2 linked regions of the Homo sapiens genome follow. The protein of the gene in region 1 purifies or fractionates together with the protein of each later gene. This does not show direct contact. Each region holds a gene or a part of one and is shown on either strand. Other genes may lie near its edges.

Region 1 (7,061 bases):
CTCCCGCCCCTCACTCAGACGCCTGGGCCCTGGCTGCCTTGCTAGCCCCTGAGAAGGTGACACCCGCCGCAACCCGAGTCCTAAGCCGAACTGCTGCTGGGGGCTCTTGGCAGCGTGCTCGCGGCAGGGCCTTTCCCGGCCTTTTCCGCTCCCTTACTTGCTTGCAAAGCTGATGGCACAATCCCAGACCAACACCCCCAGAGCTCTGCACACGCAGTCAGCCACTCTCCAGATCAGATTGGAGGGGCGCAGTCCGCGATTCCACACCCAAGCCGATAAAGAAAAACCCAGCACCACCCTCCTGGCTAAGCCATTGTTCTAAAAAGCGCTGGTTTCTTGGCAGAGCTGAACCAGGCTTGGTGTGTAAACCACGCGTGCCACACCTGGGAGACGCACGCCCATGCCCGCCAAGGATTCAGAGAGCTGCAGATTTCCACAAAGAGGTGTGGAGGCGATTCCTGCTACCAATACACGAAAGTATAGTGGCAAATCGGGATGGCCCTGCTGGGGGCAATTTGGCAATATGTGGCAAAAGTTTTTCAAACATACTTCTCTGTGACGAAAAGGTCCTACAGCCTTTCCTAAACATTCACGAATAAGAAAGTCATCACTGTTTTCTATAACAGGGAAGTATTGTAAACATCCCAAAGATCCGAAAGAAAGGAGACAGTTTAAATGACTCCTGTCACACCCACGTAAGGGTTTACTGTGCAGTATTTAGGGATTAGGTGGAGCAGGCTATTCAGCATGTTTGTAGGGGCTCTCTCTGCACCAGGGGTGTCTCAGGCACTGGGGATAAGAAAGAAAACAGGTTACAGGCCGGGCGCGGTGGCTCACGCCTATAATCCTAGCAAACACTTTGGGAGGCTGAGGTGGGCGGGTCACCTGAGGTCAGAAGTTCAAAACCAGCCTGGCCAACATGGTGAAACCCTGTCTCTACTAAAAATACAAAAATTATCTGGGAGTGGTGGCAGGCACCTGTAGTCCCAGCTACTTGGGAGGCTGAGGCAGGAGAATTGCTTGAACCAAGCTGAGAGGAGGAGGTTGCAGTGGGCCGAGATTGGGCCATTGCACTCCAGCACTTTGACCGGGAGAATGGAGCCATAATCACAGAGTTCTCCTATTAGATTAGTGGTAGGAGGTAAGGCAAGGTTAGTGAGATTTGCTAGAAGTCAAGAGGCTGTCAGTGGAAGCGGTATTTGAAGGCCTCGGGTAAGTAATATAATTACTTTCAGCGAGACTCCATCTAAAAAAAGAAAAAGAAAGAAAGAAAGAAAGAAAAACAGAAAACAAGTTACAGAACAACAGATGTACCAGGCGTGTGCATGTGTGTGTGTGCGTGTGTGTGTGTGCGTGTGCGTGTGTGTGCATGTGTGTGTGTGCGTGTGTGTGCATGTGCGTGTGTGTGTGCGTGCGTGTGTGTGCATGTGCGTGTGTGTGCGCGCGTGTGCGTGTGTGTGTGGGCGTGCACGCTCTAACATGCAAGAAAGGACTAGAACGGTAGCCCCCGACACGATGAGACAACTGATGGGGGTGGAATTATTGATGATCTGTTTTCCTCTTATGCAATGTTTGACTTTTTGCAATGAGCTTGTATTTTTTAAATTTTGGTGCGTTTTAAGATAGGCACTACATGCTCATGAAACAAAATGTAAAATATAGCAAAGGGGCACAGAAAAAAGTCTGCCTCCCTCCTCCCTGCTCCATCAGCTGTCAGGTGCTGCCCCACAGAGGGGCCACTGTTACCAGTTCCTTACTCCCCTTCCTGAGATACTCAGCCCACTTGCAGACCCGGCATAACTTTTAACATCAGCAGAAATAGGGTATTTCCATTTTTTTAAAAAACCCTATATATCATATGTAATATATAATTATATTGTATATAGATATATGGTCCTGCCTACATTCCAGCGAGTGGCTTCCAATCCTTCCTCTGCCTCCCCTCCCCATAGGCTGACCCCTAATCCCAGGCTTTCTGCACAGGGAGGAGGGACCTGCTGGCATTGAGGGTGCTCTAAGCCTGGCCCTTCCATGGTCCCTCCCTATGTTCTGATAGGAGGCTGGGAAAGCCCCCTCACTGGGACCTCCTCAGTCCCATGGGCCAGGCCCCTCCTGCTGACCACAACCCAGGAGAGAAGGTCCCGCTTCTCTCCCGAGCCTTGTACGGTCAAACCAAGGCAGGCAGCCCAGGTGGGAAGAGCCTGGTGAGCGTGGGACGGGATTGGCCTTGCACCCCAGCATCGCCACTTGGAACTGTGGTCTCTGGGCTGGACGGCCTTCCCAGGACTTCCCCGAGAGACAGGTTAACAAAGGTGCCACTTCACAGAGATGAGTGGACACCATCACGTCGCAGCTGCACCCAAATGGGAGCTGCTGCAGCATGCACTGGGGGCCTCCCCAGAGCCCGTCGCCTCACACCCCACATTCCTGCACCCCGCTCCTCTCACCTGTGCCAGTGTTGACTTTGCCCCCCAGTGACACCTCCTCCCCTCCTCATTGCCTTCCATCCTCACAAAAGCTCTGTAGTGATGCCCATGAAGAAGAAACGGTTATGAGTGCATTTTACAGATGAGGAAAGGGAGACTGAGAAACGTTTAATGCTGTATCTGATCTCACAGTTAGCAGGTGGCATGTCAGGGTTTGAACCCACATGCATCTCTGTCAGCAGCTCATGCCTTTAGCACTCGGCTCTGCTGCCTTCCTTCCAGTCATGGAGTCTGACGGCCCATCAGGGCCTCTCACTCCACGGCCACCTTGGTGTCCCTGCTCCGCGGATCCCTGGGACCTCTGCCTCCTGGTTTGGGGGATGGCAGAGCTGCCAGAGGTCCAGGAGGATGCTCCAGAGATGATGGTCCCAGAGGCAGGGACCCCCTGGAGAGATGATGTAGGACTCTTGACACTTAGGGCCCCGGCTCTGAGTGCAGACTCCACCTAGACAAGAGAAAAAATAAGGAATGCAGGGAAGAGGATTACCTTTGACACAGCCTCTCCCGGTAACTGGGGCTCCTGGAACGGCAAGAGCCAAGAGGGGACGTATTTAAGGACCCTGCTTCCCGTCCATTGAGCCCTTGGAGTTCCTGCCCAGGAAGTTTGCGTGACAAGAAAAAAAAATATTCAAATGTGGGGTGTGGCGTCCTCTGGACCTCTGCTCCCTACAGCCCAGGTTTTGGGGATTAGGTCCCGGGCTGTTTGCTTTTGTTCACTTCTGAAATGCGAGAATGTTTCTGAAGGCTTGGGCAGGGCACATCTCCAATCTTCAAAAGAGCCTATGTTTGCCCTGGGCGTGGGGGCTGCTGATTGATTCAGCCTGGCATGGAGCTCTTCCAGCTTTCCAGACTTGCCGCTGCCAGATGCGGTTCTCTGAGTTCTCTGGTTACATAAGATCGGCAGGGCTCAGCCACGAACCACAGTGAGAGCATGCAGCTCCCCCGAAACGCACCCCCAGCCACCGCTGCCCCGGGCCCTTCACATCCCCCAGTGTGCACAGGGCCCCATTGAGTCAGAGATCCTAACCCTGGGGAGCCACAGGCTGGGGACTTTTGATGGGGGTCTCCAATCCATAAATCTGCTCTCTCGTTGAATAGCTGAGAAGAGGGCCAAGGGTCTGTGTGGTCACCGAAAACCAGAGATGCTTGGGAAGGAAGGAGTCTGGAAAAGCCGTTCCCACGCTGTCTGATCAATGTTCGCTGGGCTCCTGCTCTGCACCACGCTGTGGGGAGGAGGCAGGTGTGGAACAGACTCTCGGCCCCTCTCACCAGGCGCTTCCCGCCACCCTCACCCGCCTGCAGGCAGACTGCTTACCAGCATGGGGTCCCTGCTTCCCATTTCATTCGAGGAAAACACAAGGTTCCGGTCCTGGCCTACGAGTCCTGAGGATGTGCTCTGGCCCTCCTGCTTCTCTCCACCTGGAGCCCCCTTCCCCTACATCCACCCACACGGCTACGCTCCAATGTGCTGTGGAAAATAGCACAATGCTGTCGTCTTCCTCCATTATTTTTTCTCTGGAGCGTTTATATCTTGTTTGCTACCTGTCCCTTAACTCCTGACAGCTAGAATTTGATTTGTTCACTGCTGTAACCTCCATACAGCATTTATAGTAGATGCTCAATAAATATTTATTGACTGACAAAATAAACAGGAAATTTCAAAATAATGTGAACACTGTAGTAACCAGGTAGGCAGAGGATGCTAGAGGGGCTGGGGTGAGAGTCCGTGGGAGGGAACATCATCTGAGCTGAGTGAGAAGCATTTGGGCAAGGAACAGCAAGGGGGCTGGAAGAGCAGAAGCAAAGGCACAGAGGCTGGGAACGTTATGTCACGAAAAAGTGCGATGTGTCCACTGTTGCCAGCAGGAGGTGTGGAGGTGAATGACTCTCCTGGGGCGGGGGCTCACGGAGGCCTGTGGGCCAGGCTGGCTGTGGGGGTGCAGGGCGCTGAGGAGATTATCAGACAGACAAATGTCTGCTATTTTTTGTTTTAGAGAACCCCCTGGACAGGGCACAGTGTGAGAAAGGTCTAGCCCAAAGGCTGCAGCTTCCAGCAATGCAGGCAAGAAATGACGAGACCCCCAAATAAGACTAACAGAATGGGAAACATTCCAGAAACAGCAGAAAGAAGCATCTGCAGGACCTCGCACCTGTGCAGGGGCTGGACTGGGTGGTAGGTGCAAAGTGGGGTGCCTCCTGAGAGGGGAGAAGACCGAGCCTGTGCCAGCCTCTCCCCTTTTCTGGTGGCAGCAGCTGATTATCTTTGCAGGCAACCCCTTCCTACTTGGTGAGATGATCAACCAGGTGCCTTCTCCAGGCCAGCCATGGGTTGGGGTGGGCTCCCCATGAGGCCTCCCTGACTCTCCTGGGAATTTGGATCTTGAGTAGAGGGCAGAATGCAAGGCCGAAGGCCATTCGGAGCTGACTTCTTGTGGCAGCGGCCCTCCCCTGGGAGAACCATGGAAGCAACTAGCAAAAGCCAGCAACACAGCATTGAGTACACGAAGTGACCAGAACAGTGCCTGGCGGGCCGAGGGCATCCTGGAAAGGTTAGGTGGTGTGGGTGTCATCAAAAGTGGCAGCAGTAGTGGTGGAAGCGTCAGAGCAAGGAGCCTAAAAGCAGTTCAAATCTACGAAGAACAAAATCCTTGTTTGCGTGTTTGGGTTTTGGTTATAGTTTCAGTAGTGGCAAAAGTGTGGGAGTGTGGGTTGTGCTAGAAACTTGCAGATACTTGCTTTTCAGATTTTCTTTTTTCTTTTTTTTTTTTTTTTTTTGAGACAGGGTGTTGCTCTGTTGCCCAGGCTGGAGTGCAGTGGTGCCATCACGGCTCACTGCAGCTTTGAATTCCGGTGCTCAAGCGATCCTCCCACCTTGTGACTACAGGAACCCACCACCATGCCTGGCTAATTTTTAAATGTTTTGTAGAGATGGGTCTCATTATGTTGCCCAGGCTGGTCTCAAACTCCTGGGCTCAATTCATCTTCCCGCCTCAGCCTCCCAAAGTGCTGGGATTGCAAGCATGAGTTAATCTTTGCAAGTCCTAATACTCCATCCCCAATGCCTCATCCTCACCTGGGCTGTCACTCACTCTCTCTCTCCCAGGCCACTGTTCTTGCCCTCTACCTACTCTCCTTGAGTCAGGCTCAGCTGCCTTCTCCAAGTGGCTGCCAGAGAGACATGCGGACGATAAGGACCTGAGCATGTCTCTCCCCTGATTCACATCCTTGGGTGGCACCCCCTTGCTGTCAGGAAGCTTCCTCCCATGGCCTGTGAGCCCCTGCCTGGCCTGGCTCCTGGCTGCCTTGCCAGCCTCACTTCGCACCACTTCCCACCATTCTCACTGCACTCCAGTCTGCTGGCATTCCTTGACTTAACCAGGCAATTTCCTACCACAAGGCCTTTGCACATGCTGTTCTTGCTCCCTGGGACACTTTTTCTTCCACTCTGCACCAGACTAACTCTTATCCATGTTCAGATCTCAGCTTCCCTGACCTCTCTCACCTCTCAAATAAAACCTTCCTTACTTCCAGGAACCTGTCACAACCTGCGTTCATATCTTTGTTTGTGTGACTATGTCTCTCCTTATTCCCCCTTGGACTGGAATGTCCACAAAGGCAGAGATCTCAACTTTTGTTCAGCACCATATCCTGGCACAAGGGAGACCTCTGAAGATACGGAAGCAGCCCACTACACCTAACCATCCCTCTGATGGAAAAGCAATCATTTAGCAAGACGATTTTCAGCAAATTCACCCAAAGCTAGCAAAAAAAGTGTTGAATGAATGAATGAATGAATGAATAGCGAGTTTGCTTAAATTTCAAGGAACATTTAGATTAGATATAGTTGTTGGGAGGGGAAACCACTTTCTTTATACGAGTAGAAGGAGCCTGGGCAACATAGAGAGACTCATCTCTACAAAAAATAAAAAAAAGGAAGGAGGCTGGGTGCGGTGGCTCACGCCTGTAATCCCAGCACTTTGGGAGGTTGAGGCGGGCAGATCACTTGAGCTCAGGAGTTCAAGACCAGCCTGGCCAACATGGTAAAACCCCATCTCTACTAAAATACAAAAATTAGCTGGCCGTGGTGGTGCATGCCTGTAATCCCAGCTACTCGGGAGGCTGAGGCAGGAGAATCGCTTGAACCTGGGAGGTGGAGGTTGCAGTGAGCCAAGATTGCGCCACTGCACTCCAACTTGGATGAGGGCAGAGCGAGACTCCATCTCAAAAAAAAAAAAAAAAAAAAATTAGCTGGGCGTGGTGGCATGCACCCAGCTACTTGAGAGGCTGAGCGGGAGGATCACTTGAGCCCAGGAGGTCGAGGCTTCAGTGAGCTGTAATCATGCCAGTGCACTCCAGCCTGGGGGACAGAGTGACCAGGTAGACCCTGTCTCAAAAAAAAAAGAGAGAGTAGAAAGGAGAAAATTAGGCAGTGGGTCTCAGGGACCTCCCCGTTGGTTAAAAGTGTTATGACTCAGGAAGACAAATGCCACATGTTCTCCCTCATGTGTGGGAGCCAAACAAGTGGATCTCATGAAGATAGAGAATAGATCGGTGGTTACCAGGGCTGGGAAGGGT
Region 2 (6,839 bases), on another chromosome or scaffold:
GAGACAGAGGTAGCTGTGTTTGACTGCCCCCACCACCCAACCCAACTTCGGTTCCATCTCTGAGTCTTTTTTTGCTGTTTGATTGACTACAAAGTACCTCCTAGCTCTGAGTTCAGATCATGATTTTTTCAGTCCCTCCACTCTTTCCAAAACATTAAAATCCTCACCTTCCTTCTCCCCAGATGATCACCCTCCCCTCAACCTGCACCCAGCCTACCTCTTCCAAAGACCGCGGATTGCTCATTTCTCCTTTGGTTGTGAGTCCCGGCTCTCAGCACCCTTGTCTGATCCTTGGAGTCAAGAGAAGATAGGTTAAAGTTCTCTAAAGGGAGGCCGAGGGGCTCAGGGGACAAACTGGCTTATGTATCTGGATTTTTGAGACCAAATAGCACTCAAGTGGTGGGGATTTGGTCTGTGGACAGATCTGGGCAATAGATGATAATCCATGAAGTAGTAATATATCACCCCTAGAATGACAATTTCACGATGTCTTCCATTTCTGGATGTCTTCTTCAGAACTGCTGAGCCTACCCCACAATGTCCCCCACTCCGCCCCCAAAAACTTCCTGTGTCTCCCGTGGGTCATTCACCAGCTTCTGGTGGACTGAACTTCCCCTGAAAGCCCTGGAATGAGGAGCAGGGCAAGTGACCCATGTGTTTGCCTCTTCTACCTAGGAGATGACGGGCTGGGGAAGCCATCTCAAAGAGATGCCTTGGAGGAGTGTTTAAAAGGAGAATGTCATCGAAGTGGGGAATGCAACTTTGATATTATCTCACTGGGTCTCCAATACGAAGGGGTCAATCCACCTCCCTTGCTCTTCCTTGAGTCTGAATGTCTGTCCACATTCTCCATTCTCATCTCTGAGTCCTGTTCTCTTCTCTGGCTGCACAGACAGACTTTTGTCATACTCTTGGCATTTCCCCATCTCTTTGCCTTTTCCTACACTTTCTCCTCAGTAGGGAATGCTTTTTGCTTTTTTTTTTTTTTTTTTTGAGACAGAATCTCACTCTGTCACCCAGGCTGTCTGGGGTGCAGTGGCATGATCTCGGCTCACTGCAACCTCTGCCTCCTGGGTTCAAGTGATGATCCTGCCTCAGCCTCCCGAGTAGCTGGGACTACAGGTATGCGCCACCATGCCTGGCTAATTTTATTGTATTTTTAGTAGAGACGGGATTTCACTGTGTTAGCCAGGATGGTCTTGATCTCCTGACCTCATGATCTGCCCACCTCAGCCTCCCAAAGTGCTGGGATTATAGATGTGAGCCACTGCACCCCACCGGGAATGCTTTTTTTTTTTCTATCTAGATCCTTCTCTGACAATTTTGGTGGCATAATATCTGCTATGCCTTCCCCCATCAACCATCCATTCATCTATGTTTTTATCCATCTATCTATCCAGTCACCCATCAATTCATTCATCTATCCATCTACCATCTATCCATTAATTCATCATCTATCCATCCATTCACCCACTCACCCTTCCATCTATTCATCTGTCCATCTACTTATCTATTAATCAGTCATCCCATCCACCCATCCTTCCACCCGCACATCTATCTAGTCATCCATCAATCCAATTTAACATCCATCCTTTTATTCATCAACCCATCCACCAATTTATCTTTCCACTTACCTATCTATCCACTCATCCATCCATCCATCCACCCACTCACACATCTATTCATCCGTCTGTCTACCCATCTATTAATCAGTCATCCCATATACCCATTCATTCTTCCATCAACCCATTTATCTACCCATCCATCTATCTATCCATCCACTTATTCATCCAACCACTCATTCATTCATCCATCCATCCATCCATTCATCCATTATCTCTCTCTGTCTTCCATCCCTCCATCTATTCTATCTTCCAACTATCCCTCCATCTAGCCCTCCTTCTATCCATTCCTTCATCCATCATCTCTATCTTCCATCTATCCATCCACCTATTTACTTATCCATCTACCCACCCACCCATCCATCCATCCATCCATCAATCCATCCACCCACCCACCCACCTACCCAGCAAATATTTTCTGGGTATCTATTATGTGTTATGCACTTAGAATCCATTAAGTAAGACAGACATGCTCCCTGACTTTCTGTCCTTCTGTAGCTCTAGTCTGTGACAGAAATGAATATTAAATCTCTCTCTCTCTCTCTCTCTCTCACACACACACACTCACACACACACACAGCAAGTGCTGTGACGAAAGAGGAGCCAAAGATTGTGAGGGAGGAAGTGGAAGGAGCATAGCCCTGGAGCCAGAACCGAATCCTGCCTCAGTCCCTTCCCAGCTGTGTGACCTTCGGCATCTCACTCTCCTCTCTGAGACTCGATTTTCCCATCCGCAAAGGACCTGGGGAGAGCTCTAGGTGCTTAACAGCAATGGTGACCCAGGTAGGTTTTAGGATCCCTCTTGACCTCCTGGAACTTTCCTCTTCCTTCTCTGGACTCTCACAGCTCTGCTTGCTCCTACTTGAATTACAGCAGTGTTTTTGATTCTTACTCTCATGGCTGAACTGGCAGCTCAGTTTTCAGGACTGAAAGCCTGACTTCATTATCTCTGTCTCCATCATGGCCAACAGTGTGGCAGGGAGCACAGAGGTGGTGTTGGAGAGAATTTGCTGAGTAAACAAATAAGAAAAAAATGAACAGATGAAAAGAAAGAGGGGATGGATGGAAATTTCTTCCATTCTGCCAAAACTGGCCAGAGCATTAATTCATGAAGGGAGAGGGAGCGTATGTGTGTATGTGCGTGTGTGTGTGTGTGTGTGTGTGTGTGTGTGTGTGAGAGAGAGAGAGAGAGAGAGAGAGAGAGGCTAATATCCACCAAATCACTTACCAACTCTAGAGGCAGCTGTTCCTCAAGGCCAAGTTCAATCTCACTACTCTCCTAGTTGCCAATACTGAGCTGGGCACCGAGGAGGAGTCAGGCCCACGTACTGATCTTGGAGAAGGGGCTGACAGTGTGGAATCTCCCGGGGTTTCTCCTGAGAAGCCTGGTCTATGAATCGGGTGGCACAATCACCTGGCCCTTTATTGTCGGTGAGTTTTCTGTCACTCAAGAAACCTCATGACACACCCTTGGCACACAGCTGTGGTGTGGAAATGGAGCCAACGCCAATGGGATGAGTGATCGCAAGGCTGAGGGGACTCCCTCTGGCAAAGGTGGCCTAGGCAGAGAGTCTAAATGAGTCAGATGTCTGTGCCAGCCCAGCCACAACCTCTCCCAACCCCCATCCCATAGCCAGCCCATCTGGTTATTACCATCATCATTATGCCTAGTTTATTCATCTCACCTTCCACTGTGTAGATAACACCGACTTCACTTAGTTATTATCTCATCGAGTCTTCAAGAGTCTAGACAGATCAGTATTTTTGCTCCCATTTTGCAGATGGAGAAACTGAGGCTCATAGAGGTGAAATGACTGCCCAAGGTCAGCAATTGGCACAGTTGGCATTCAACCCTATAAGGGGTGAGGTGTGGTGGGTCACGTCTGTAGTCCCAGCGCTTTGGGAGGCCAAGGCAGGAGGATCGCTTGAGGTGAGGAGTTTGAGACCAGCCGGGGCATAGTGAGACCCTGTCACTAAAATAATAATAATAATAAAAATGATGGCATATACCTATAGTCCTAGCTACTCAGGAGGCTGAGGTAGGAGGCTGGCTTGAGCCTAGGAGTTTGAGGCTGCAGCGAGCTAAGATTGTGCCTCTGCACTCCAGCCTGGGTGACAGAGCAAGACTCTGTCTTAAATATAAAAACAAACAAACAACCCCTAAAATGTTCCAGCCCAGTTGCCTTAACTGATGCATCATGATGATTCCTCTCTTCCTCCTCCTCTTATTATTTTTCAGCCATTTTGTTTCATTTTATTTCTTATGTTAATAGTGAAACCAAAGGCGAACCTGATTAAGCCCTCCAGACTTAATCTGCCTTGCGTTTAATTGCTTACTTACTTTTAATTGCTTACTTATAGTTGATCTTAAAAGCGCCACTAGCAAGTCACGTAGCCAAATAATGCATAACTAAACTCCCACTGGCTTCCTTACAGATAACATTTTTGTCTGTGGGACACTATAGTAATGGGTGCTTAAAGTTGTTTTTCAGGAACTAGGTAGGAGGCAGCTCTTGTTTAGTTTAAGCCAGTGGAGATCACTGACCCTTCAACTGCACCTATGTGGGTAGCTGATATCAGAGGGCCGTAAACTCCACCTTCAGATCATGCTAAATGCTATTTTTTGCACAAATGTCCTATCTAAAGCCATGTAGCTCAACCATGCTTGCTCAGAAATTCTGATTACCTCACCTTCCCTACCTGCCAGTCACCTTTCTCCGTACTTTAGATCACCCCGTTTTCTATCCCATAAGCACCCTCAAACCCTATTTTTGGGGAGGAGAATTTGAGACCTGTTTTACCACCTCGTCGCTTAATTGCCTCATGAACGAACTCTTCCTCTTCTGCAAAATCTGTCATTACATTGATTGGCTTGCTGCACAGAGGAAGAACAAACTCGGTTCGATAGCAACAGCTTAAATGAGATATAATTTACGTATTATACAATTCACCCACCTGAAGTGTGCAATCCAGTGGGTTTCAATATATTCACAGTGATGCAACCATTGCGTCAGTTCATTTTGGAACATTTTGTTTTTTCTTTTTTCGGAGATAAGATCTGTCACCCAGGCTGGAGTGCAGTGGAGCGATCACAGCTCACTGCAGCTTAAAACTCCTGGGCTTATTCGATCCTTCCACCTCAGCCTCCTGGGCAGCTGGGACTACAGGTGTGCACGTACATGCCTTGCTACTTTTTTCCTCAAGATTTTTTGTAGAGACAAAGTCTTGCTGTGTTGCCCAGGCTGGTCTCGAACTTCTGGCCTCAAGGGATCCTCCCCACTCGGCCTCCCAAAGTGTGAGATTACAGGCGCGGGCCACCACACCTGGCTCATTTTAGAACATTTTTATCACCCCCCAAAAGAATCCCAGTACCCTTTAGCTATCACTCCCAATCTCTCCATACATCCCAGCCTTAGGCAACCACTAGCCGAGTTTCTGTCTCTGCAGGTTTCCCTGTTCTGGATATTTCACAGAAATAGAATCATACACTATGTGATTTTTGTGTCTGGCTTCTTTCATTCAGCATGATGTTTTCAAGAACAGTATTGCAGGGATGTTGGTTTGTTGTCTCCTGTTTCATTTTGTTTTGGTTTTTAGAGAGCCAAGTGTTAGATGTCTTTCAGCAAACCATTGCAGACACTCCCATTCCAATTCCTTCCCCTAAGATCCAGCCTTCTTAGCTGACCAGATCCTATAAATCAATGAGATTTCAAGGAGGAGGAAGATAGCATCCACATGGTAGCATATATTAGAACTTCATCCCTTTTTCTGACTGAATAATAGTCCATTGTACAGATATACCTCATTTTGTTTATTTATTCATCTGTGGAGGAACATTTCAGTTGTGTTAGGCTTTTGGCTATTTGAAGGATGCTGTTATACATATTTATGTACAAGTTTTATGTGGATTTTTTTTTGAGACAGGGTCTCACTAAGTTGCCCAGGCTGGAGTGCAATGGTATGATCTCAACTCACTACAACCTCTGCTTCCCGGACTCAAGCAATTCTCCAGCCGCAGCCTCCCCAGTAGCTGGGACTACAGGCGTGCACCACCATGCCAGGCTAATTTTTTGTGTGTTTTTTGTAGAAACTGGGTTTTGCCATGTTGCCCAGCTGTTGTTAAACTCCTGAGCTGAAAACGATCCACCTGCCTGGGCCTCCCAAAGTGCTGGGATTACAGGCGTGAGCCACCACGCTTAGCCTGATGCATGTTTTAATTCCATTCCTAGTAGTGCAACTTTCTAGCAATACAGAAATGTTTTTTTTAGCAAAACTGGCCTGTTCTCATCCTTCCAATTCTTCCCTTTGCTTCCAGGTAGCCCAGGCACAAGACTGAGCAATTTCCCTTCAGTGCCTATTGCCGCATTGACTTACACACATTCGCAGTGTTAGTTACATAGGTGGGCCCGTTCTACAAAATTGTCCTGTTACTTGCCTTGTTCACCGAATTATGTCTGGGTCATCTTTCCATGTTAGCACATATGGAACAAACTCAATTTTTTTGTGTTCTTTAAACAACTATTGAGAATAACCTATGTGAAGAAAAGTGCGCGACTCTTTTTTTTTCTTTCTTTTTTTTTTTTTGAGACGGAGTCTCGCTCTGTCACCCAGGCTGGAGTGCAGTGGCGTGATCTTGGCTCACTGCAACCTCTGCCTTCCGGGTTCATGCCATTCTCCTGCCTCAGCCTCGCGAGTTGCTGGGATTACAGGCACTCACTACCACACCTGGCCAATTTTTGTATTTTTAGTGGAGATGGGGTTTCACCATGTTGGTCAGGCCTGTCTCGAACTCCTGACCTCGTGATCTGTCCCTCTTGGCCTCCCAAAGTGCTGGGATTACAGGCATGAGCCACCGCACCCGGCCTAGTGCACAACTCTTAAATGTGCAGCTTGATAATTTTTTTCAAACTGAACATATCCACGTGACCGACAATTCAGTGGTGCTATTGAATCAATTCTGCAATGGCATAAAAAGTACACACTTTTCACTAAAAGAGAAACAAAACCCAGGAAAACACCAAATTAAACTGGACATAACATCCTACACTTACCCCATGCCAAAATTTTAGCTAAAGCATGCTTTTGCTGTCTTCTTCCTCCTTGAAATCTCATTGTTTGACAGGGTCTGGTCCGTTAAGAAAGTTGGATCTTAGGGGAATCAGTCAGGACTCGGAGTGTTTGCAATGATGTGTTGGAAGATGTCTAACACTTCGCTCT

The links. The genes of interacting proteins can lie anywhere in the genome.
Region 2: the proteins of ALDH3A1 (region 1) and CASP14 purify together in Homo sapiens (affinity purification with mass spectrometry; 2 studies listed by BioGRID and IntAct, with this or other methods). This does not show direct contact.

What each region holds. Positions count from the first base shown.
Region 1 is NC_000017.11:19,745,286-19,752,346, forward strand, and holds the start of ALDH3A1 (aldehyde dehydrogenase, dimeric NADP-preferring), read right to left. Parts: upstream 3,014-7,061; 5' UTR 2,974-3,013; intron 328-2,973; exon of another isoform or gene 1-327. UniProt on the Homo sapiens protein: ALDHs play a major role in the detoxification of alcohol-derived acetaldehyde. They are involved in the metabolism of corticosteroids, biogenic amines, neurotransmitters, and lipid peroxidation.
Region 2 is NC_000019.10:15,045,657-15,052,495, reverse strand, and holds the start of CASP14 (caspase-14 precursor), read right to left. Parts: upstream 3,017-6,839; 5' UTR 2,851-3,016; intron 291-2,850; 5' UTR 245-290; coding exon 218-244; intron 1-217. UniProt on the Homo sapiens protein: Non-apoptotic caspase involved in epidermal differentiation. Is the predominant caspase in epidermal stratum corneum. Seems to play a role in keratinocyte differentiation and is required for cornification.